Homo sapiens: one gene and its partners. The protein of the gene in region 5 interacts with the protein of the main gene of each other region in a pairwise test. Each region holds a gene or a part of one and is shown on either strand. Other genes may lie near its edges. The genes, in order: DGCR6, KRTAP22-1, TRIM25, ARNT2, MEIS2, ZNHIT3 and PBX4.

Region 1 (4,211 bases), on a different chromosome or scaffold from region 5:
GACAGCTCCATAACACAGGGAAGCAGGGAAATGTCATCATCTTCACTCTACTGATCAAACATTGCTACAAGTGCCAGGTCCACTACGAGATTCCACTAGATATGCAACCAAAAGGCAAGAAGAGAGCCACGCCGGCTGCCTGGGCAGAAGGGGCCTGGCCTTAGACACGACCGGGAACACAAAGGAGGCAGGAGCAGCCAGTCACCCCTGCCAAATCAGCAGGAGAAGCAGAAAGTCAACGCAGGCATGCCTGCTGCTGGTGGAACCAGGACCTGGCCCAAACCTTCTGAAGCACAAACAGCATTGGGCCCAGGCAGTTACTGAAACTCCCCATCCTGCTAGAAAGAACTACAACTCTGTGGAAAAATGGCCGATTCCAGGACTGAGACACGGAGAAAACAAGAAAAGATGAGCCTGAACACATACCTGAACCAGAAAGCAAGAAAGTGCTCACAGAATGATGGGGCGGCATCTAAAGGTGCCTGGAGCGCCCCCAACTGGCCACACATGGCACAGTCTGAGCATTAAGGAATAATGAGCCATGCACTTGGGATTAGTAAACTGCATGCATCTTACAGCTCAATAAAATTTTTAAAAAGACAGTCACCCAGACATTTAGGGGAAGAAGTAATGCCAATTCTACACAAACTCTTCTGGAAAACTGAAGAGGAGAGAACACTTCGAAACTCATCCTATAAGGCTGGCAAAAACCCTGATACCCAAACCAGGTATTACATGAAAACTATAGACCACAGTTTATCATGAACATAGACAAAAAAATTCTTAACAAGATTTTAGCAAATCAAATCCAGCATACATAAAAAGGATACTACAGCACGACCCAGTAGGATGGAATTCAAGTGACTGTAATTCACTGTAGTAATAGAAAATGATTCACCACGTGATCATCTCAAGAGCTGCCAAAAAGGAAACTGCCAAAATCCAACATCCATTCTTGATAGAAACACACCAATCCTGGAGCAGATGGACACTGCCTGCCTTCTGGGGAAGGGGGCCTTGCCCCGCTAGGAGGAATTTTTGCCACATTAAACCTGCCTCTAATCAGGCTCCTACCAGGAGTCCAGTGTACAGTAAACCCAGAGAGTGGAGAAGCAGGTTAAATGCACGAGGAAGCATTTCCTCTGATAGATCCAGAGCAGGGCATTCTAATTATAGAATTAGACTCTATAAAAAGTCAATGCCACAATAAATGTTGGGGACTGTTCCAGAAGCAAAGAGACCAAAGTAACCAATTGTAGTACATGAACTTGGACTGGATCCTTACTTATAAAGCAACAATTTGCCACAAGTTAGGTACCATGATGTGGCCATGCACTGAAAGTCAGGAGACACCTGGAACAGTTAATTTCTCAGGGGGCTACCCTCTGCAGCTGTGTAGGAGACCGCTCTTGTTCTAGAGCACTTGCTCCCAATCCAAGGCCAAGGTTGACCCCACCACCCAGGTTGTCTGGAGGCATTCTTGGTTTTCACGACTAGGGAGGGTACCCCTGCCATCCTGCAATGCGCAAGACAGCATCTCACCATAAAGACTTACCCAGCCACAAATGTCAGCATGGCTGGGTTGAAAATCCTGGTCTCCAGGAATGCTGAAGACTCTTGGTGAATTCTATGCTGTCACATGTATGTATTTTGGGATGTCAAGAACTAGAGCAAAATGTTAACTACTGAACTTTCGGTGGAGAGCACAAGCGTATGCACTACACTGTCTTTTCAGTTTTTCCAAATGTTTGAACTTTTAAAATAAGAAGTTTGGGAAAAATAAAACAGCAAAGGTGGAAATCTGATGGTGCAGGGGGACCTGCCCTATATAATTTGCAGGAAAGGGCTCCGAAGCCCAGGAAGCATGCGGCTCAAGTGGGAAGCTCTTCTGGTTTGGGAGGGCGCCACAGGAGACAGTGCTTAGGAATTTGATGTGCAACTAGAATGAGGCCCTGCAGGCCTGAGAGGGAACTGACCCTGAAGGGCGCGCACAGCTGTCAACAGACCTCCAACTACCCAAGGGCGCTGCTCACCTGTCAACAGAACTCCAATTACCGGAGGGCAACGCAGTCAGATCTACCACCAGAGTCAGCCTGCCGGCCAACCAAGCACGGAGGCCTAGGGCCATCAGGCCTGGAAGGGGGTGGGGCACAGGGAAGCCCGAACAGGGAGTTTCTGCTAAGAAGGTGGGTGCTGCGCAACTGAAAACAAAACTCGTTGGACACATTGGTCACCAAAAAGGCGCTGTCTCAGTCTCTGCGCCCTTGATTTTGTTAATCTTAGGGACCTCTTCCGAACACTCCCAAGGAAGGAGCCGAGCTGCACAGATACCAAGAGCTGCCGGGAGGCGCCGACCCCGAGGAGGCGGCACCTCCTCCCGCTGCCCCCGCGCACCTCGATGCTCGTTCTGTAGGCGCAGGCGCTGGTTGTACAGGCTCTTTTCGGTGAGGTGCTGGATCTCCAGTAGCCCCTGCACGATTTCGAACACGGTGCCGTCGAGAAGCGCCAGGGCCAGGTCGCTCAGCGTGGTGTAGGACAAGCGCTGCTGGAATGAGCTGCGGGGTAGAGGAGCGCGGTGAGCCCCGGCGGGACACGATGCGGCCTCGGCAGGCCGCCGCCCGCCCCGCCCGCGTACCTGGGCAACTCCTTCACCAGGCTCTGTAACGCCGACAGCAGCTGGTAGTGTCGCTCCTGCTGCCGGGCACCGTCCGCCACCTCCTCCAAGGCGCCCGCGTAGCGCTCCATGGCGCGGACGCCCGCTAGCCGCCGGCTGCAGCGACGAGCGCCCCCAGCTCACGTCATCCCGACCGCGGCGCGTCCCGCCCCTTTTATGACAGTCCCTAGCGCAGCGCGCCCCGCCCGTCTTAGGACAGTCCCCGATCGCGGCGCGCCTCGCGCCTTCCCCGCCCCACCACGCGCCCCGCCCCTTGCGTCATTCAGAAGGAGACGCGCCCCGTCCCTCCGTGGTGGCTGCAAGGAGGGTTTCGCTCAGCTGAGGCTCATACCTTCCTGCTCCCCGGGCCACTTTAGAGGCGAGACTCCGTCGCCTGGATATCGCAGGACCATGTAGAATCCCACCGGCCCTTGCTGAGTCATTGCGGGCTGAGGTCCGGGCTCCGCGCCGGCGCGCCTGCGAGGTGGACTGTCCCGGTCACCGGCCTTCCCAGAGGGAGGGGTCTCGGGCCAGAGCCCACAGGACCTGGGTCTAAGGCACCATCGCGGCCGAGCAGTGGTGTTGGGGTCTGTCTGCGTCCTCTCTGCCCCCGGAGTGAGACAGACAAGACCACCCTAGAGCCTCTGGGCCAGGAGAGTTGGAACCGGAGTCCCCATCTGGGCCTGCCGTGGTCGCCCCGGGGTGCCCAGCCCCCAGCCGGAACCGCGAGCCCAGACTGCCCTCTCCCCGCTCCCCAGACCAGCTGCTGGGCCGGGGCTGGGGAGCTTCTGGTGGCTGGTGTGGGCGGCAAGCCACCCAGGCGCTGAGGCAAGAGACCGAGGACACGAGCTGTTCCAGTATAATAAAATATAAAACAAGAATAGTTATACCAGATATAGATCTTAGATATGATTATATATGAATATCAATAATCATTAGTTGGTAGCAATTACTCTTTATTCCAGTATTATAATAATCCTCACTCTATAATCATAACCTAGGAAAAACCAGGCCATACAGAGATAGGAGCTAAGGGGACACAGTGAGGGGTGACCAGAAGACAAGAGTGCGAGCCTTCTGTTATGCCCAGACAGGGCCACCAGAAGGGCTCCTTGGTCTAGCGGTGACGCCAGCGTCTGGGAAGATGCCCGTTGCCAGGTGGGCCGTGGTCTAGCGGTAGTGAAAAGTGTCAAGGAACAACACCTGCTACTTAGCAGACCGGGAAAGGGAGGCTCCTTTTCCCCGGGGGAGTTTAGAGAAGACTCCGCTCCTCCACCTCTTGTGGAGGGCCTGACATGAGTCAGGCTTGCCTGCAGTTATCCGGAGGCCTAACCATCTCCCTGTGATGCTGTGCTTCAGTGGTCCCGCTCCTAGTCTGCCTTTATTATGCCTAGTCATCCTGTACACCTGGCTCTGCCTTCTAGCTAGCAGTAGTCAATTAGTGAAAGTACTAAAAGTCTCTGATATGCAGAAATAATGGCATAAGCTATCTTTCTCTCTGTCTCCTCTCCCTCTCTGCCTCGGCTGCCAGGCAGGGAAGGGCCCCCTGTCCAGTGGA
Region 2 (2,227 bases), on a different chromosome or scaffold from region 5:
AAAAATGCAACTAAGTATCAAGAAATGTAATGTATGTGCAACAGAATAAAGTGATGAGAAGGGAGGTACTATTTTTGCCAATGATTTTAGTCAAACATTGGATACACTGAAGATGAGGCTTTGATAGATCAAAGTAAATTATAGTACCACTTGGCTCTGCCCATGAGAATACATTTTATCAAAGTACTATTGGTCAGACCTAACACATCCACATCATCAACTGTAAGTTTCCAATGGGTCAGCAACCTTACATATGTGCTCCTGAACACACACACACAATCACAAATAATATAGGTACTCTAGATAAATAAATATAGGTAGGAAAATGCTGTAGGTTTGCAAAATAAATTACCTTTGAAGAAAAATAAATTTAGACTTTTTCCCAAATGAAAATGCTTAACATTATTTGTACTTAATCATATACTAGTAACACAACATCAAAGGTTCTTTTTTCGTTTGATTAAATTGTTGGAAATTCCAGCTAATTGATCAAATAAATTCTGACTTGGCAATGTGGGCTAAATTTTAGTTGTCACTCTTTGAACAGAAAAAAACACGGGAAGAAAACATAGCTCATAAGAGAATGGCCTAAACAGATCAGCAATCTCTAATTTCTCAGAAGCAGCCAGAAAACCAAGATCTTTCATAACACCATGGGCAGTAGCAGGCATAGCCATAGCCGCTAAGACCACAGCCATAGCTGCAGCCCAGGCCTCCTTTGGCATAGCCCTGGCCACCATGGTAGTTGTTATCAAAGCTCATGGTTTCAAGAAAGGTAGGCTCAGTTGTATAGCAGGATCAGATTCTAGAGTTTTAAGTTTATAGAGTTTTAAGTTTAAAGTTTTAAGCTTATAATAAGGGCCTTAAATGCCACATGAATGGTATGTGGGACAAATCACAGGCACTGTTAGATTCACATTCCACACTAATTAGCATTGAAACCATCTAAAATATTCCTTGTAACCAATACATCCAAGACAACTTTGCTGTTTCTCAGGAATGTTGAATATAATGAAATAATGTACCTTTAATAAGAGATCCATCTCCTATTTTGATGACTCGTTTATTTCAGATGTCAAATTTAAACTACATTACCAGCAACCAAGAGTAACCCACATGGCTTCCACTTGTTGTTGTTGTTGTTGTTGTTGTTGTGAGACAGAGACTAGCTCTGTTGCCTGGCTGGAGTGCAGTGGCACAATCTCACTGCAACCTCCACCTCCTGGTTTCAAGTGATTCTCCTGGATTCTCTGCCTCAGCCTTATGAATAGCTGGTGCGTGCCACCACGCCCAGCTAATTTTTGTATTTTTAGTAGAGATGGGGTTTCGCCATGTTGGCCAGGATGGTCTTGATCTCCTGACCTCAAGATCCGCCCGCCTCGGCCTCCCAAAGCCTGGGGTTATGGACGTGATGGCTTCCATTTTTTAAAAATCCTACTTTCACCCAATAATATCCTTCAGCCTAAATACATATATGCAGACTTGGGAATAAGAGTGTAGCTCCAAAGTGATAAGGAAGGATGATAAGCGTGTAAGAGAAGTCATGGTGGCAGCATTCACTTGTAAAATGTTGAGTGATAAGGTGTTTCATCACTTTTTGTGGAGCAATATCATTCTCTTTGGTTTATACTTCACATGTAGCTATCATTTTATATATGATTCTAAACCGTGGCAAAGACTTTGATTTTTGACTTCGTTGATTCTGGGTATATAGTAAGAAAAGGACTTCTATTAAAAATCTGAATTTTAAAACAATTCCAGAATTACTCAAAGATTTATTGGCATCATGACTCCCTGAGATGGCACAAGACAAGAGTTACATCTCTTCCCAAATGTATAACCTCAATCTACATATGAGGAAACCTTAGACAGATTCAATTGGGGAATATTCCACAAAATATCTGGCTCTCTAAAATTGTAAGGTCATAAAAGCCAAGAAAAGACGAATGAACCATGAGCAATTGGAGGTGACTAAGAAGTATAAAAACCAAATGCAATGTGAATTGGATCCAAGAACAGAAAAAAAGAACATTAAAATAAATATGTGAATAGTGCTACAATGAACCATGGTCCTAGAACTTAAAATAAAATAAGTTAATAATAACAGAAAAATGGTAAAATAAAGTCTGCAGTTTAGTTAAGAATACTGTACACAGTTAATTTCTTTGGTGTGATAAGTGGATTATGGTTATGAAAGATATTAATATTAGGGATGTTGAATGATGGA
Region 3 (3,500 bases), on a different chromosome or scaffold from region 5:
GGCTGGCTATAAATGTAATGTTTTGCTGATCTTTGAAGGGTGAGAGGAGTTAATTAGTGAAGACGGTGGAGTTCAAGCCTTCTGGAGAGTGGGGAAGAGCAAACACAAAGGCCCTGTAGCAGGAAGTTTTGCATATTTGAGGAACTGAATGCAGAGAGATGCACCAGAGGAGAGTGGGGGGCGCCTTGGGGCTGGAGAGAGACCAACAGGGCTTGACCTGGCATCTAGACCAGGGTCAAGGGTTTGGTCTGCATCAGGGAGTAATAGGAAGCCTAGTGAGAGGGCAAAGCAGAATAGGTCCCAGGACATGAGCTCTGCATCATGAAAATCCCTCTCTGGCTGCAGCGGCAGATGCAGAGGGTTTAGGAAGCTGCTACAGTCATGGGGCGACAGGTGATGGCAATGGAGAACAGGCAAGCAGTGCTAGGATCAGCAGACTGAGTCAGGAGATTGAAAGAAGTGAAATTTGGCAATGGATTGGATATGGGGTGATGAAAAGGGGGTGTCAAAGAGGAATTCTAGATTTCTCCCCCAAACGGGCCATTCCCCCACCAAACACAATAACAAGCCCTAGCTTATTCAAAACCCATCCAAGTTGGCCTCAAGATCACAGGCCAAAAGAGCCTATCTGTCCAGAAAGTCCAAGCATTAACATCAAGTCCCCAAAAATGCTTTAGGAAAGATCCTAAAATGTCAGGATGAAGCAGACTCCCCACCAGCCTCCAGACAGAGGGCGGATGTTTCAGGAGCCCTGAAACTCAGGCCCCAGTGCTCGGGATCACGCCCCAATCTCCCATCCCAAAACATTTAGGGGACCCATCGGGTTGCAGGGTTCCACAGGGGGCAGCATAGGGGGCTGCTAAGGTCACCTGAACTGGGGGTGGGCTCCTGGAGCCGCCCGATGCACTGCTTCAGCTCGTTTTTGAGGTCTATGGTGCTCTGGTGGATGCCTTTTATCAGCTTGTGGTTCAGTTCCACCTCGGGGATGTAGACTGGCTTTGTTGAGATTCCTCGCAGTTTTGATGCTTTCTGGAACATGCCAGGGGGTTAGTGCAGGCAGCTCTGGTGAAACGGGGACCTGGGCTCAGTCCTCACCAACCCCAGGAGGCTCTCCCCTATGCCCAAGAGTGCTAAGTCCAATTGGCCTTCTCAAATTACAGGCCAGAGGTCACCAGGAGTTTAAATGACACTTGAAGACACAGTAATCTGGAGCTGGAGGGGACCCCAGAGGTCACTCATCTTACAGATGGGGAAACTGAGGTCTAGACATGGCAGGAACTCCACCAGCTAGGGGCACAGACACAGCTGGGACTGAGATCTTCCGATCCCCCAGGACAATGTTCTTTCCACTTTTCCAGCTAAAGGTGGAAAAGCACAGGAAACTCAGGACCACCCCAATCCTAGGGGAACAGCTCTAATCACACATTCTGGTAACAGACAGGGACATCTCAAGGGATGTGGATTGCAGCCAGGGAATATCTTATGGGAAGGGAGGGTCTTCCTGGAAGTCCCAAACTTTGAGAAAAATAGGGTTGTACAGTATCAAGAAGCCTAGATGTGCACTCAGATCCTTCGAGAGCTCGGGGCAGCTGCTCCAACAGACAGGAATGAACACTTGGGATGAAACTTAACGCCATCCAGACTAGGCACGCATCAGGCCTCAGTGCACAGAGACAAGGTTCCCATTCACTCCTGCACTGTCTCCCCACCCCCTGATCTGAACAAGGAATCTGGGTCTTTCAGGTATAGCTGCAGGTCACTCAATCAATGGGGCACACCACTATATGCCAAGCACTCTGCTATGTGCTGGTCAGATTGGCAGGAGGATGAATGGGGGTAATAAGAGATGGGCTTACAGTCAAAACAGCCATGAAAAAATGCACATCTGAAACAACATCACCCAATGTTACTGTAGAAACAGTGTGGCATGCTTGGGAACACCGATACGGCATGGCAATGGGATCCAAGGCCCTGGAAGGATACGACTCACTAGGCAAGAATGCCCAGCATGGCATCCCACCCACACCCACTGTGTCTGGGGAACAGTGAGTGCATAGGGCATGAGCCAGGGATGGATGATATGAGATGAGACTGCTGGCACAGGCGGGGCCCAGTCACCTAGGACCCTGCAGGCCATGTTAAGGGACATGAGGCCAGAAACAGCAGGGGGCCCATGCTTTAGACAGATACTTTGATACAGTCTGGATGTTTGTCCCCTCCAAATCTCATGTTGGAATGTGATTCCCAGTGTTGGAGGTGGGGCAGGGTGGGAGGTGTTCGTGTCGTGGGGGTGGATTCCCCATGCACCGCTTGGTGCCCTCCCCATGGTAACAGGTGAGTTCTTGCACAAACTGGTTGTTTAACGGAGGCTGGCACTTCCTCCTCTGTCTCTTGTTCCCTCTCTAACCCTGTGACATGCCTGCTCCCAGCTTCACCTTCTGCCATGAGTAAAAGCTTCCTTCCTCACCAAAGGCCTAACTAAAAGCCAAACAGATGCTGGTGCCATGCTTGTACAACCTGTAGAACTGTGAGCCAAATAAACCTCTTTTCTTTATAAATTACTCAGTCTGGTTGGGCGCAGTGGCTCACACCTGTAATCTCAGCACTTTGGGAGGCCGAGGTGGGTGGATCACCTGAGGTCAGGAGTTCGAGACCAGCCTGGCCAACATGGTGAAATCTCGTCTCTACTAAAAATACAAAATTAGCTGGGCATGGTGGCGTGCGCCTGTAATCCCAGCTACTCAGGAGGCTGAGGCAGGAGGATCACTTGAGCCTGGGGGCAGAGGTTTCAGTGAGCAAGATCACACCACTACACTCCAGCCTGAGCAACAAGAGTGAAACTCCATCTCAAAATAAATACATAAAATAAATAAATAACTCAGTCTTAGGTACTCCTTTATAGCAATGCAAAAGGGACTACTAACACACACTTCCAGGAGCTGCTGGAGGAAGGATGGGAGGAAGAGGTGGAGTGTGAGTGGCAGGCAACGTTCTAAGATGGCCCTCAAGCCCCCGACCCCGACTGATGTACATACCCTATAGTATGCCCTCCCCTTCAGTATCGGCAGGACGGTGAATGAAATAGGATATCACTCCTGTGATTAGGTTATGTCATGTGGCAAAGGGGGTGGAATATTGCTGGTGTAATTAGCATCTCAAATCAATTGATTTTGAGTTCATCAAAGGGCAATTATCTGGGGTGGGCCTGACTTAATCAGGTAAAAGACCTTAAAAGAGGGATTGCATCTTTCTAGAGGAGAAATTCTCATGCTGGCCTTGAAGAAGTCAGCTATCAATCTGAGAGACAGCCAGCAGGAAATTGCGGGGGGCCTCAGTCCTACAACCATAAGGAACTAAATTCTGCCAACAACCACATGAGCCTGGAAGACAACCCTGAGCTCCAAAGGAAACAGCCTGGCCATCCCTCGCAGACTGTAGCCTGGTGAGACCCTATGCAGGCCACCCATAAAGCCATGTCCAGATTCCTGAGCCAGAGAAAC
Region 4 (3,500 bases), about 44 Mb from region 5:
CCATAGACCAGAGTTTCTCAACCTTGGCACTATTGACATTTGAGGCTGGATAAGCTCTTTGCTGTGGGGGCTGCCCTGTGCACAGTAGGATGTTTAGCAGCATCCTTGGCCTCTACCCGTAGATGCCAGTAGCACCCCTACTCCCTGGAGGTGTGGCAACCAAGAATGTTTCCAGACATTGCAAATGCCCCCAGTTGAGAAGCACTGTGTGGATACACGTTTGGCCTCTGTGCCCAGGTTTCTCACATGTCCTGCCACCCAACTTAGAGGTCTATTGAAGATAAGAAAGACAATACTATTTTGTGTGGCTATTAATTTAAAAATTGGTGCACCAATTAACTTTGGCTTCCTGTTCCTCTAAGTCTGGAACTCAGCTCATCTACTGACCTCTATAAAGGGCAACTGTGTAACTTTCCTGGCCTCCCTTCAGTGATTTAATAATTTCAGTGGCTTTTTTAACTGCTGTTAGGGTAATTGGGTGGTCCAGGCCAAAACAGGCAGGAAGTTGCCTTACTCAACAGGCAGAGTATATGGAAGGCCACCCTCCTCTCCTTTGGCCCCACCTCCCTCGCTCAGCCACCAGTAAGGCCTTCAGCTAATTTGTCTCTTGGAAGGCCTGGCTCTACCCGAAGAGCTGGGTTTCCACTCAGGCCAACTCCTCTGGTGCTCCCACCCTGGACATTGCACCCCTGAATCTTCCCAGGCTGTCCTACCTCAGAGTCTTTCCTTTTGCCACCTAAGCCTGGATAGAGAGATGCCTAGTTCCACCTGCAGCTGCTCTCCACTTTTTTAGAGTTGTTGGAAGAAAAGTAGGGATGGCCAAATCAGAAACAAACACATTTATCCTCAGTTACTAACAACTCCTGAATGTGCATTTGAAACAGGAATAACCACCATGGCCTGCCTAATGGTATCACAGGCAGGCAGGCAGGACCAGAAATCACCTGGCCGCATGCTCTCTAAGCCCTGGGACCACCCTGTCAGCCAGGTGGTCTGGTTGGAAGTGTGTAGGTCAATCCTAGGAGGATGTGTGGACAATAGACGGTGAGCAAAGGTTTCTGGGTAAGTTAGTGGCACCAGCGTTTGAGAAAGGCCATATGGAAGAGGTGAATTGGTAAGGGAGGGGGTGGAGGGAGAACAATGGGGCCTCAGATGAGAACCCAGGTTGGCATGGAGAGCCCAGTCATGGGGCCCCTGCAGCGGCCCACTGAGGCCATCAGAGGCTCTCTGCCTGTTGAGTAAGGCAACTTCCTGCCTGTTTTGACCTGGACCAATTACCCTAACAGCAGTTAATTAAAAAGCCACTGAAATTATTAAATCACTGAAAGGAGGCCAGGAAAGGTACACAGTTGCCCTTTATAGACATCAGTAGATGATCTGAGTTCCAGACTTACAGGCAACAGGGCCTGGCCTGGGTTGCCGGAACCTGCCAAGGATAGGGGGCACAGCGTCTGGGTGTAAGACCTACTCATCCACCTACCTGCTGGGGACTCCAGATAAATCTCTGAGCCTCTCTCTGAGCCTCTGTTCTAACCTTTGTGGACAGCAGTATAAAAGTATATAAATCCATTTGACTGTTCAATTCTACTTCAAAGAATTGACAATAAGGAAAAAATCATGTATTCATATATTCATTCATATACGGGGATGTTCAATACAATGGTGTGTACAATTCTGGCAAACAGAAAAGCACACCAAATATTATATGCCCAGATATAAGAATGTGAGTTAATGAATTATGACACAGCCATAAACAGAATATATGCAGCTTCTCAAATCAGTATCCTTGATAGGATATACCATTAATGAAGGGAAAAAAGGGATGACAAAGCAATATGCTCGAAATAATTCTATTTTGTTATATATATATATATACACACACACACAATATTTAGAAAAAAGTCTGTAAGGATATACGCAAAAATGTTAGTTATGGGTGGCAGAATTATCTTAGTGTTTTTGTGCATTTTCCAAATTTTTTACAATCAACACAGATCTTTATTGTGGGGGAAAAGTGGTTGTGGTGAAGAAAGCAACCAACTCCTCAGCAGGGGCTAGGAGAAGAGCTCCAACCTCTGCTTTGTATGTTCTCACAATGAAACCAAAACAGTAAGAGATGTCCCATGTTTTCATACAATGTACAAAAGCAGGAAGTACCTATTTGTAAACATTTTGGCATTTTTGTAGATTTCCCTGAAAAAAATGGTCAAATTGTTATAGACTTGGCAGCCACAGAGTCTCTGCTTATCTGCAAAGAGCCTCAGCTTCCAACTCTAAAGCCTGCACTATTCAATCAGAGGGCAATGAATGCATCTTTTGACCTTGTTGCTGCCTTCCTGAATGCTGTTGGGGTGGCTGAATCTCAAAGCCAGCCTGGAGTCTGTCTTATCAGTAACTGCTGGTAATTAAGCAAGCCATGTCAATAGTTTCACACACAACACAGAAGGCAGTAAATGGGAGGATCCCACTTCCCTTCTGAGAAGACCCTGTGGGACTGTAACACGGAACCTACCACTACCACCAGCCAGTCTCCAAGCTATCACCTACCCTTCTTCTGGGAAGAATGATGAGCTTTGTGTGTCCAAGGTATCAGGTAGGTGTAGGACCTCCTCACCCACCCACCTGCTGAGGACTCGAGGTAAGTCTCTGAGCCTCTCTAAGCCTCTGGTGTAACCTTTGTGGACAGCAGTATAAAATAAAAATATATAAATACATTCGACTGTTCAATTCTGACCTAATCTTCTTCTGGGAAGAATGATGAGCTTTGTGTGTCCAAGGCTCCTTATTAGAAAGTCTAGAGGAACTAGTTTGCATAGGGATTATCTTGGTAGGATTTTCAGATCAAAATCAGTTTCCACAAATAAAAGTCAGAATCTCAATTAGACAGCTCTGGACTATTTTGTTACAGAGACCCACAAATATAGGATATATGCTTTCTTTCCTTCAAGGGAGTCATTGAAAGGCAGCCACATACAAAATAAAAGACAGTTCCCTGGCATCCCTCCATTTATTCATTAACAAAACCCTACTGGGTATCTATTGTATGGGAAGCAATATGGTAGGTGCCAGGGCTGCCATACTGTTGGATACATTCCCTGCCCTCACAGGGCTTCCAGTCAGGTATCAATCAAATAACTGCACAATTTACATGAGGCGAAGTGCTCCAGAAGCAAAGTACAGCTTTATGGGGCCCTGGAAGAATGCATGATAGGTACATTTTACCTGGATAAAGGGATCAGGATAGATTTCCCTAATGGAGTAAGAATTCAAGCTGAGACCAGAAGAAAAGTAGGAATTGGACAGGAAAATGGTTAGGAGTGAGGAGGGGGTAAGGGTAGGGAAGGAGGGACAGTGAGCAATTAATCATTCCAAGAAGAGGGACACAACATAAACAAGAGCCCTCAATTGGAAAGGAGCTTGGCTAAAACTGAGAAATAACTTTTCTTCATTGAACAAAGAGTTTCGTGTGGTGAGCTAGTCCAACAGCCTGACCTGCCCCA
Region 5 (2,923 bases):
CTGATGTGCACTTTTGAAAAGGCCAACTGACAAGCCTGCGTGTGTTTTAAGCAGGTGGGACTGCCTTTTAGCCTATTTACTGTGGCCCCAATGTGCACAAACACAGACATCAGGCAGATATTGGACATTTAAGAATAAAAATAATGTCTTGGGGGCACCAGTTGACTGAGAGAAATTAAGCAGGCTTCAATGAAGCGATAAAAAAAAAAAGGAAAAGTAGAACTGTCCTTTGAGTGACATAAATCTGTCAGAATACGATTGATGCCCAAATTATCTTATATGCAAAGATGAAATGCTGCAGTTCATTATGCCTAGTCTAGATATATGACAGCAGTGACACCATTGATTCTTCACTAGGGAGTCGGTGTGTTTTGATTATTTTTTACATGTGCCTACTGACTTCCGACATGAGACAGAAAGACAGGAAAGTCAGTCAATAAATTTAAAGGGAAAGACATTTAGGAGCAACTGAATATGAAGGAATGGATTTTTCACTGAGGCTGAATGGCTGCAGTTGGATTAAGAAACCCATTAGACTTTAAAGCTTCAAGTGTTTTTGACATCTGAAAAAAATTCAGAGTCTGCCAACAAGATATATCCTTTGCTGAAGACACCAGAGCATAAAAAAATTCATATAACATTGAAACTTCCTTGTTTAATGAGGCTGAATATAACAACACGTACCTTGATTAAATCATTCTCTATATGTAAATAGAGGCCAACATTTTATAGGGGAGCTCAGGGGGTCACCACGGCACACCATTGATGAAGCCAATTTCCTTCCTTCCTTCCTTTACTAATGCAGTCAAAAAATGTAGAAAGCAATGTTCCCTAAAACAGCTATAGAGAAAACATTTGCTCAGCTTGGATAGTTCTTAATATAGGCCATATAATTTCTAGCCTATTTAATTACATAACATATTTTATGCTTCATGACCAATTACATTAATAGCTTAATACAGAAGAATATTATCCTCTCTTGATTTGATTATGCAGCCACACAATATGGTATATTTGGTACTTAATTATCATCATCCATTGAGCAGGCTGCTGTGGTAGAATAAACAGAGAGCTGGGACTATGCAGGCTGTGTTATTGTCTTTAGATGGTTTTGCCACTTCTGTTAATAATGGACTGCGGATCTACTTAACAAAATGACTGCAGCATATAAGCCTTTAGATTACCAGCTTACAGTGTCAAAAACATCTGTTCAGCTTTTCAACTGTATGCACTGGAGGTTAAATAGAGGTGAATAAAGCTGTCCTTTTAGATCCGGGGATGTGCAACAGTAAATATAACCTTAATTCAATAAACAGGTAACTTGTAAGAGAAATCAGAATCCTTACAATTGCTGACTTCCCACCATTTAACTCATAACTTTGAATGTTGCATATCTCAATTGAGAATTTCTACATTTATTACATTTTATTCCTAATATCAAGGCATTATTTGGGGGGATTTTCAGAGATAAACTACCGGGCATGTCATATGACCTCACATTGACTTCTTACCTTTGACCTTTACAATCTCTTGGGTGTACTGCTATAGGAATGCCTCTAATTCAAAAAGGGGGCTTCATTTTAAATACACGTAAAAGCTCATTTCTTCAAAATGAATATGCTGTAATGTTTTGTGTAATAAATTTTTCATGAGGAAATATAGATATGATAAGATGTCAATTTTATTTTATTCTACTATCTACAATTTTTGTCCAGGTCTACAAATGCAACACAGAAAAATAAATGATCTATCAACAGTTAACTGATAAAACTCGACTCAAAATTTATATTCTTATTGCATTTATCAAAGAAATGTACTGAATACCATTTTGAAAAACAGTTCCACTTTATGACATTTAGTTGCATTAAATATTTAGTTCTGTTGTGTTGCATTATACTGCTGTGCGATGAAATTAAATGCAAACTACAATTTGAATGTCTGCAAACATTGGCAAGAATCTGCAGCTAAATTTAGGTATAAGATTTGCAGTGTCTGTTGTTTTTTTTTTTTTTTTCTTTTCATCTTTGATGGGTAAAGTATAAAAATGTTTAGGAATTTGACCCGCTTTCTTTTTCCCTCTCTATTTTCAGGTTTGCAGAGCATGCCAGGGGACTACGTTTCTCAGGGTGGTCCTATGGGAATGAGTATGGCACAGCCAAGTTACACTCCTCCCCAGATGACCCCACACCCTACTCAATTAAGACATGGACCCCCAATGCATTCATATTTGCCAAGCCATCCCCACCACCCAGCCATGATGATGCACGGAGGACCCCCTACCCACCCTGGAATGACTATGTCAGCACAGAGCCCCACAATGTTAAATTCTGTAGATCCCAATGTTGGCGGACAGGTTATGGACATTCATGCCCAATAGTATAAGGGAACTCAAGGGAAAAGGAAACACACGCAAAAACTATTTTAAGACTTTCTGAACTTTGACCAGATGTTGACACTTAATATGAAATTCCAGACAGCTGTGATTATTTTTTACTTTTGTCATTTTTCATCAAGCAACAGAGGACCAATGCAACAAGAACACAAATGTGAAATCATGGGCTGACTGAGACAATTCTGTCCATGTAAAGATCCTCTGGAAAAAGACTCCGAGAGTTATAACTACTGTAGTATAAATATAGGAACTAAGTTAAACTTGTACATTTCTGTTGATCACGCCGTTATGTTGCCTCAAATAGTTTTAGAAGAGAAAAAAAAATATATCCTTGTTTTCCACACTATGTGTGTTGTTCCCAAAAGAATGACTGTTTTGGTTCATCAGTGAATTCACCATCCAGGAGAGACTGTGGTATATATTTTAAACCTGTTGGGCCAATGAGAAAAGAACCACACTGGAGATCATGATGAACTTTTGGCTGAACCTCATCACTCGAACTCCAGCTTCAAGAATGTGTTTTCATGCCCG
Region 6 (3,321 bases), on a different chromosome or scaffold from region 5:
AGCTATTGTTCTGGATTCCCTGACCAGCCCCACTCTCCCCTTTTCCTTCGACTTATTCTATGTGAAGTCCCTTGTAGATTTGTTTGAAGTCAACCAACCCACCTTTGTTTTCCACAGGCTTTACGGTTTTGGTAGGAAGAGCTGATCTTATTTTTTTCTCAACAGGACGAGTTTCAGGGTTGCACTGTTCTGAAAAAGACACAAATCCCAGGCCCACATTACCTCCATTTCAGCGACAAGGCTGCACCTCCCTACCAAGGTAGCATCTAGGTAGGAAGCAAGTGTCTGGGGTAAGGGATGTGGGTGGGTGCCCAGGAATGTGGAAGAAGTGAGAGATCAAAGCAAGAGAGAGATTAAGGAAAACCGCCAGCAGGCTGAGAAAGCAGGACTCATTCATGCACCCCAAGAACCTGTCCCCATCCTCCCTACCCTGCCGAATCTTACAAAATTCTCACCACAATTAACTGAGGTGTTTGAAATAGCTGCTGTAAACCAGATACCAGATGGGATAAAACTAGGGGCAAAACCACCAAAGAACTTACAGAGTCAACAGAAGGCCAGCTGTGCTGGCTCACGCCTGTAATCCTAACATTCGGAGGCCAAGGTGGGAGGATCACTTGAGCCCAGGAGTTTGAGACCAGCCTGGGCAACCTAGCAAGACTATGTCTCTACAGAAAATAAAAAAAATCATCCAGGCATGGTGGTACACACATGTGGTCTCAGCTACTTGGGAGGCTGAGGCAGGAGGATCCCTTAAGCCCAGTGTGTCAAGGCTGCAGTGAGCTGTGATTGTGCCACTGCACTCCAGCCTGGGTGACAGTATCAACAGAGCATGAAGTCACAGGAAAGGGTTCTGAGGACATAAAGGCAGGACCAGATTGTAGAGACTTAAAATGTAGATTTGACAATATGCTACGGAAAGGTTCTAGTCATGTAGGTGGCAGTTACAACAGCTGCCAGTGACTAAGTGCCGAGCACTGTGCCAGGTACACAGTGAGATACATAGTGGCTCAATGAACCTTTACGAAGCCCCCATGACATGGAGACTGTTAATTCCACTTACAGATGAAAGGATTAAATTTTCTTGTAATAAACTTGTCCATTGGGGTCCACAGCTAGTAAGTAGCAGAGGCAGATTTGGAATCCGGGTCTAACTTTACGGCTATGCTATATGTGTAAGGAACACAGCAGGAGGGACTGAAGGAGAGGTGAATTTTCTGGGTTGTACCTGACCCCAAAATACATTTGTGTCTAAGGTGCTCAAAAAGAGGCTGGAGCTAAACAGTTGGATGTCAGCAAGAAAAAAAAAAGTTTAAAGTGAAAGAGAGATCACCTACCTAGGAATAAAAGTCAAGGACCACATTTCAAGAGAGAGATCTAGCAAAAGGAAGGAGAAGCTGGGCACAGTGGCTCCTGCCTGTAATCCCAGCAATTTGGGAGGTTGAGGCAGGAGGACTGCTTAAGCCCAGGAGTCCAAGACCAGCCTAGACAATACAGTGAGACCCTGTCTCTACGAAAAATAGATAAAGTTTGTCTCCGTTACTCAGGAGGCTAAGGTGGGAGGATCACTTGGGCCCAGGAGGCCAAGGGTGCAATGAGCTGTGATCACACCACTGCACTCCATCCTGGGCAAAAGAGCAAGACCCTGTCTCGAAAAAAGGAAAAAAAAGAAAACGAGAGTCTACAGCTAAGCCACCCTGAATGCACCCTATCTCATCTGACCTCAGAAGCTGTAACAGGGTCAGGCCTGGTTAGGACTTCGAAGGGAGAAAGGGAGGAGAGAATACCACAGAGCGGTATCTTCCCAGCCTCCAAAGAATATCAAGAAAGAAAAAGCCAAACACAGCAGATATTCATGGGAATCAAGAAAGATGACAGGCTGAGCATGGGTAGCTCACGTCTGTAATCCCAACGCTTTGGGAGGCCAAGGTGGAAGGATCACTTGAGCCCAGGAATTCAAGACCAGCCCAGGCAATACAGTGAGACTTCATCTCCACAAAAATTAAAATTAAAAATAAATAAGCCAGGCATGGTGGCACACGCCTGCAGTCCCAACTACTTGGGAGGCTGAGGTAGGAGGACTGCCTGAGCCCAGGAAGTCAAGGCTATAGTGAGCACCACTGCACTCCAGCCTGGGTGACAGAGCAAGACTTTGTTGCAAAAAAATAAAAAAGACAAATGAAAAGTGTACAACAGATGTGGCTATTAGAAATTTCTGATAAAAATTATTTATTAAATACCACTTTAACACTGCCTATAGCAGCAACAAAGGCAAAATTAATGTAAATATCCACCAATAAGAAAAATAAATATTAAAATGACCATACTACCCAAAGTAATCTAGAGTCAATGCAATCCCTATCAAAATACCAATGATCCTGTTCACAGAAATGTCAAAAAAAAATTCTAAAATTAATATGGAACCACAAAAGACCCCCAATAGCCAAAGCAATCCTGAGCAAACAGAACAAAGCTGGAGGCATCACCACTACTTGGCCTCGAAATATACTACAAAGCTATAATATCTAAACAGCATGGTACTAGCATAAAAATAGACACATAGATCAATGGAACAGAATAGAGAACCCAGATATAAATTCACACATTTACAGCCAACTGACTTTTCACAAAGGCACCAAGAGCATATACTGGGGAAAAAAGCACTCTTCAATAAATGGTACTGGAAAAATAGGATAACTGTAAGAATAACCATATGCAGAAGAATGAAACTAGATCCTTATCTGTCACCATATATAAATATCAAAATGGATTAAAGACCTAAATGTAAGACCTGAAACTACTACAAGAAAACACAGGGGAAATGCTTCAGGACATTGGTCTAGGCAAAGATTTTATGAATAAAATCTCAAAAACACAGGCAAGAAAAGCAAAAATAGGCAAATGGAATTCTATTACACAAAAAAGCTTCTGTACAACAAAGGAAACAATAGAATGAAGAGACAACCCACAGGATGGGAGAAAATATTTGCAAAATATTCACTTGACAAAGGATTAATATCTAGAATACACAAGGAGCTCAACAGCCAAAAAAAAAAAAAAAAAAAAATTAAGTGGACAAATGGGCCGGGCATGGTGGCTCACCCCTGTAATCCCAGCCCTTTGGGAGGCCGAGGCAGGTGGATCACCTGAGGTCAAGAGCTCAAGACCAGCCTGGCCAACATGGTGAAACCTTGTCTCTACTAAAAATACAAAAATCAGCCAGCAGGCACCTGTAATCCCAGCTACTTTGGAGGCTGAGGCAGGAGAATCACCTGAACCCTGGAAGCGGAGGTTGCAGTAAGCAGAGACTGCGCCACTGTA
Region 7 (3,500 bases), on a different chromosome or scaffold from region 5:
ACTTGCCGTGAATGGCGCCGACCATGCGCTCAATCTCCTTAGGGGAGACAGGCCTCATCCTGCTCTGCTCCTGGAGGAGGTTGGTGACGTGCGTGGTGAACTCACGACAGGCCTGGGGTGGGAGCACAGACACGCCGGCCTGTGACTAGGCAGCAGGGTGGCACAGGGCAGCAGGTTCCACAGCGGAGCAGCCGCCTGCCACCCCCTGTAGTTCACACACCGGCGGGTGACTGTTAAGTAAATGGAAAGGGCTTTCAGTAACAATGGACCACCTCTGCAGCGACCAACTGCATGGACTCCCTGTTCTGCGCCACGAAAGAAAGGTGGTTAGCGTTCCGTGTTTCGCTTTGACAAATGCGCATTCACATGACAGAAACTCTTCCATGCAGAAAGATCACCTGTTCATATTTCTCTAGCTCAGAGTGGTAAATCTGTCGGATCTGGGACAGCTTGGCCCTGTAGTCAGAGTGCTCAATGCTATTGTCATTTGGACAGCCACCTGGTGTTGCTGTGCCGGCCCTGGCCACCGCTCCTCCTCTTCCTCTCTTCTCGGGCCTGCACACGCCCTCAGCCAGCAGCATGTTATCCAGCCTCAGGAGCTGGGCGTCAGGGGGATCTTCGTCTTGAATGCCACGGATGCTTACCACTAGATAAGAGAGACCGGGACAAGTCACAATTCATTTTCTGGAGAGAAAACAAACCATGAGAAAATGTGAGCACTGGTGTTATGTCTGAAGATTTTTGCATAGAACCCTTCGGGAGAAAGGAATACTCCACTTTATCACCAAATTGGATGATGGACACTGAGCACCCCGCTAAGACATGGGTCCAAGTGCCATCCTTAGAGCGCAGTCTGGGGAGGAACGGGGAGACACAGGTCGCAGTTTGGCATAGCCTGTGAGGGCAAACCTTGGTCACAGCTGTGTGCACGCAGCAGGGCCAGGCAGGCGCCTGTTGCTGGGGTCACCTGAACCCCTGAACCGAGTCTCAAGAAGTGCTGGGGAAGAGGGGGCACCCAAGATGCTGCATACTGATAAAGGCAAGTGGCAGGCTGGCATTGGCAGCGTGGCTGGCCTGGGCCCAGGACTGTGCAGCTGTAGGCCTGTTGTGGCTGGTGGGTGGGGTGTGTGTGTGTTGGGGTGGGGGTGCTGTTATAAAACTGGATAGGAAAAGCCTGATAAAGAAAGTGCCAGAAAAGATGAAATAACCCACTGAAAGATTTTAAGCAGAGAAACAAGATAATGGGCCCTACAATTTGGAAATGCCGTCCCAGCTCTGCAGAGAGGGGACCTGGATAGGGGCAGGGCTGGACTGCAGGGGAAGCAGTCAAAGGGCAGCCACCATCAAGGTATACACAGCTGTGGGGTCTGCAGGTCAGCTACAGGGCAGTCAGAGAACCCCCAGGATTCGTGTCCTGGGACACGGGTGTCAGAGAAGGGAAGACTCCAGGGTCATTCCCAGATTCTGCCATGGGCAGCACAGCCAATGGCATCGCATTCTCCCAAGTAAAAAGCCTGGAGCTGCAGCTTGTGCAGGTGGGGCTGAGTGAAAAGGTGGCTTCACGGCCGGGCACAGTGGCTCACGCCTGTAATCCTAGCACTTTAGAAGGCTGAGGCGGGCGGATCACTTGAGGTCAGGAGTTCGAGATCAGCCTGGCCAACATGGTGAAACCCCGTCTCTACTAAAAATACAAAAATTAGCCAAGCGTGGTGGCGCCTGCCTGTAATCCCAGCTACTAGGGAGGCTGAGGCAGGAGAATCACTTGAACCTGGGAGGCAGAGGATGCAGTGAGCTGAGATCTTGCCACTGCACTCCAGCTGGGGGGATAGAGAGACCCCGTCTCAAAAAAAAAAAAAAAAAAAAGTGTTCTCTTAGAATCAGGCTTTTTTTTTTTTTTTTTTTTTTGAGATGGAATCTCATTCTGTCACCTAGGCTGGGGTGCAATGGCATGGTCTCCACTCACTGCAACCTCTGTCTCCCAGGTTCCAGTGATTCTCCTGCCTCAGCCTCCCGAGTAGCTGGGACTACACATGCGTGCCGCCATGCCTGGCTAATTTTTGTATTTTTAGTAGAGACAAGGTTTCACTATGTTGGCCAGGCTGGTCTCGAACTCCTGACCTCATGATCCGCCTGCCTTGGCCTCTTAAAGTGCTGGGATTACAGGCATGACCCACCGTACCGGGCCAGAATCAGGCTATCTTAATAAGGTCAGCTACTTACCGAATTAGTGCTCAGATGACAATTCCGTTTGATTATATCATATAGTCATTTACAAGTGTCCCTTTCTTATTCCCTACATAACAGATGAACCTTTTCTGTCAAAAACTCACTAGTCAAAACTGAAGGAACTCAAGCGATATCCTTGTAAGAATTTTCCTTAGAGATTTCCACTTCAGGCTGGGCGCAGTGGCTCACGCCTGTAATCCCAGCACTTTGGGAGGCCAAGGTGGGCGGATCACCTGAGGTCGGGAGTTCGAGACCAGCCCAGCCAACGTGGAGAAACGCCATCTCTACTAATTAGCCGGGCATGGTGTCGAGTGTCTGTAATTCCAGCTACTTGGGAGGCTGAGGCAGGAGAATTGCTTGAACCCGGGAGACGGAGGTTGCAGTGAGCCGAGATCACGCCATTGCACTCCAGGCTGGGTGACAAGGGCGAGACTCCGTCTCAAAAAAAAAAAAAAAAAAAAAGAGATTTCCACTTCAACACTTAGTGCTAGTTTATTAAGCACACATGCAACAAATTTTATAAACCAGGATTTTGAACAAGAGACAAAAAAAATTAGCAACCAGATCCAAGGACTGACCACAAACCTGGTGCTTAATACAGGATAGTGTTGGCCAGGCGCAGTGGCTCACGCCTGTAATCCCAGCACTTTGGGAGGCCAAGGTGGGTGGATCACCTGAGGTCAGGGGTTCGAGACCAGCCTGACTAACACAGAGAAACCCCATCTCTACTAAAAATACAAAATTAGCCGGGCATGATGGCACATGCCTGTAATCCTAGCTACTTGGGAGGCTGAGGCAGGAGAATCGCTTGAATCCGGGAGGTGGAGGTTGCGGTGAGCCGAGATCACGCCACTGTACTCCAGCCTGGGCAACAAGAGCGAAACTCCATCTCCAAAAAAAAGAAAAAAAAAAAATATACACACACACACACACACACACACACACACACACACACACATATAGGATAGTGTCCCACCTTCTCCAAAACTGTTTCTTACTCAATTAAAATTGGAAAAAGCAATATGAGAAAAGTGGGAAGATTTCAAGAAGAATCCACACACCCTGTTAAACTTTCAAGGTAGAATAGATGGCGGCACAAAGTTGCAGACATGCAGAGACTTAACCACAAGTCTCCAGTACCCAGGCAGCGAATGTCCATGGCACAAATTAGTCATGCAAATTAGACATAAATTTGTCTAATTTGATAATAAGAACATAAACTATAATAGAAACAGCCAAAATAGCTAATACATGAGATTGGTTAAGTAAATTAT

The links.
Region 1: the proteins of MEIS2 (region 5) and DGCR6 interact in a two-hybrid assay, tested with the Homo sapiens proteins (one large-scale study listed by BioGRID).
Region 2: the proteins of MEIS2 (region 5) and KRTAP22-1 interact in a two-hybrid assay, tested with the Homo sapiens proteins (one large-scale study listed by BioGRID).
Region 3: the proteins of MEIS2 (region 5) and TRIM25 interact in a two-hybrid assay, tested with the Homo sapiens proteins (one large-scale study listed by BioGRID and IntAct).
Region 4: the proteins of MEIS2 (region 5) and ARNT2 interact in a two-hybrid assay, tested with the Homo sapiens proteins (one large-scale study listed by BioGRID and IntAct).
Region 6: the proteins of MEIS2 (region 5) and ZNHIT3 interact in a two-hybrid assay, tested with the Homo sapiens proteins (one large-scale study listed by BioGRID and IntAct).
Region 7: the proteins of MEIS2 (region 5) and PBX4 interact in binary tests that used the Homo sapiens proteins (3 or more experiments, as listed by UniProt).

Annotation. Positions count from the first base shown.
Region 1 is NC_000022.11:18,904,909-18,909,119, reverse strand, and holds the start of DGCR6 (protein DGCR6), read right to left. Parts: upstream 2,801-4,211; 5' UTR 2,746-2,800; coding exon 2,636-2,745; intron 2,556-2,635; coding exon 2,395-2,555; intron 1-2,394. UniProt on the Homo sapiens protein: May play a role in neural crest cell migration into the third and fourth pharyngeal pouches.
Region 2 is NC_000021.9:30,599,656-30,601,882, reverse strand, and holds KRTAP22-1 (keratin-associated protein 22-1), read right to left. Parts: upstream 797-2,227; 5' UTR 763-796; coding exon 616-762; 3' UTR 501-615; downstream 1-500. UniProt on the Homo sapiens protein: In the hair cortex, hair keratin intermediate filaments are embedded in an interfilamentous matrix, consisting of hair keratin-associated proteins (KRTAP), which are essential for the formation of a rigid and resistant hair shaft through their extensive disulfide bond cross-linking with abundant cysteine residues of hair keratins.
Region 3 is NC_000017.11:56,900,550-56,904,049, forward strand, and holds part of TRIM25 (E3 ubiquitin/ISG15 ligase TRIM25), read right to left. Parts: intron 1,030-3,500; coding exon 870-1,029; intron 1-869.
Region 4 is NC_000015.10:80,410,882-80,414,381, reverse strand, and holds part of ARNT2 (aryl hydrocarbon receptor nuclear translocator 2), read right to left. Parts: intron 1-3,500. UniProt on the Homo sapiens protein: Transcription factor that plays a role in the development of the hypothalamo-pituitary axis, postnatal brain growth, and visual and renal function. Specifically recognizes the xenobiotic response element (XRE).
Region 5 is NC_000015.10:36,891,627-36,894,549, reverse strand, and holds part of MEIS2 (homeobox protein Meis2), read left to right. Parts: intron 1-2,090; coding exon 2,091-2,377; 3' UTR 2,378-2,923. UniProt on the Homo sapiens protein: Involved in transcriptional regulation. Binds to HOX or PBX proteins to form dimers, or to a DNA-bound dimer of PBX and HOX proteins and thought to have a role in stabilization of the homeoprotein-DNA complex.
Region 6 is NC_000017.11:36,489,681-36,493,001, reverse strand, and holds part of ZNHIT3 (zinc finger HIT domain-containing protein 3), read right to left. Parts: intron 190-3,321; coding exon 103-189; intron 1-102.
Region 7 is NC_000019.10:19,570,188-19,573,687, forward strand, and holds part of PBX4 (pre-B-cell leukemia transcription factor 4), read right to left. Parts: intron 685-3,500; exon of another isoform or gene 647-684; coding exon 399-646; intron 231-398; exon of another isoform or gene 113-230; coding exon 1-112.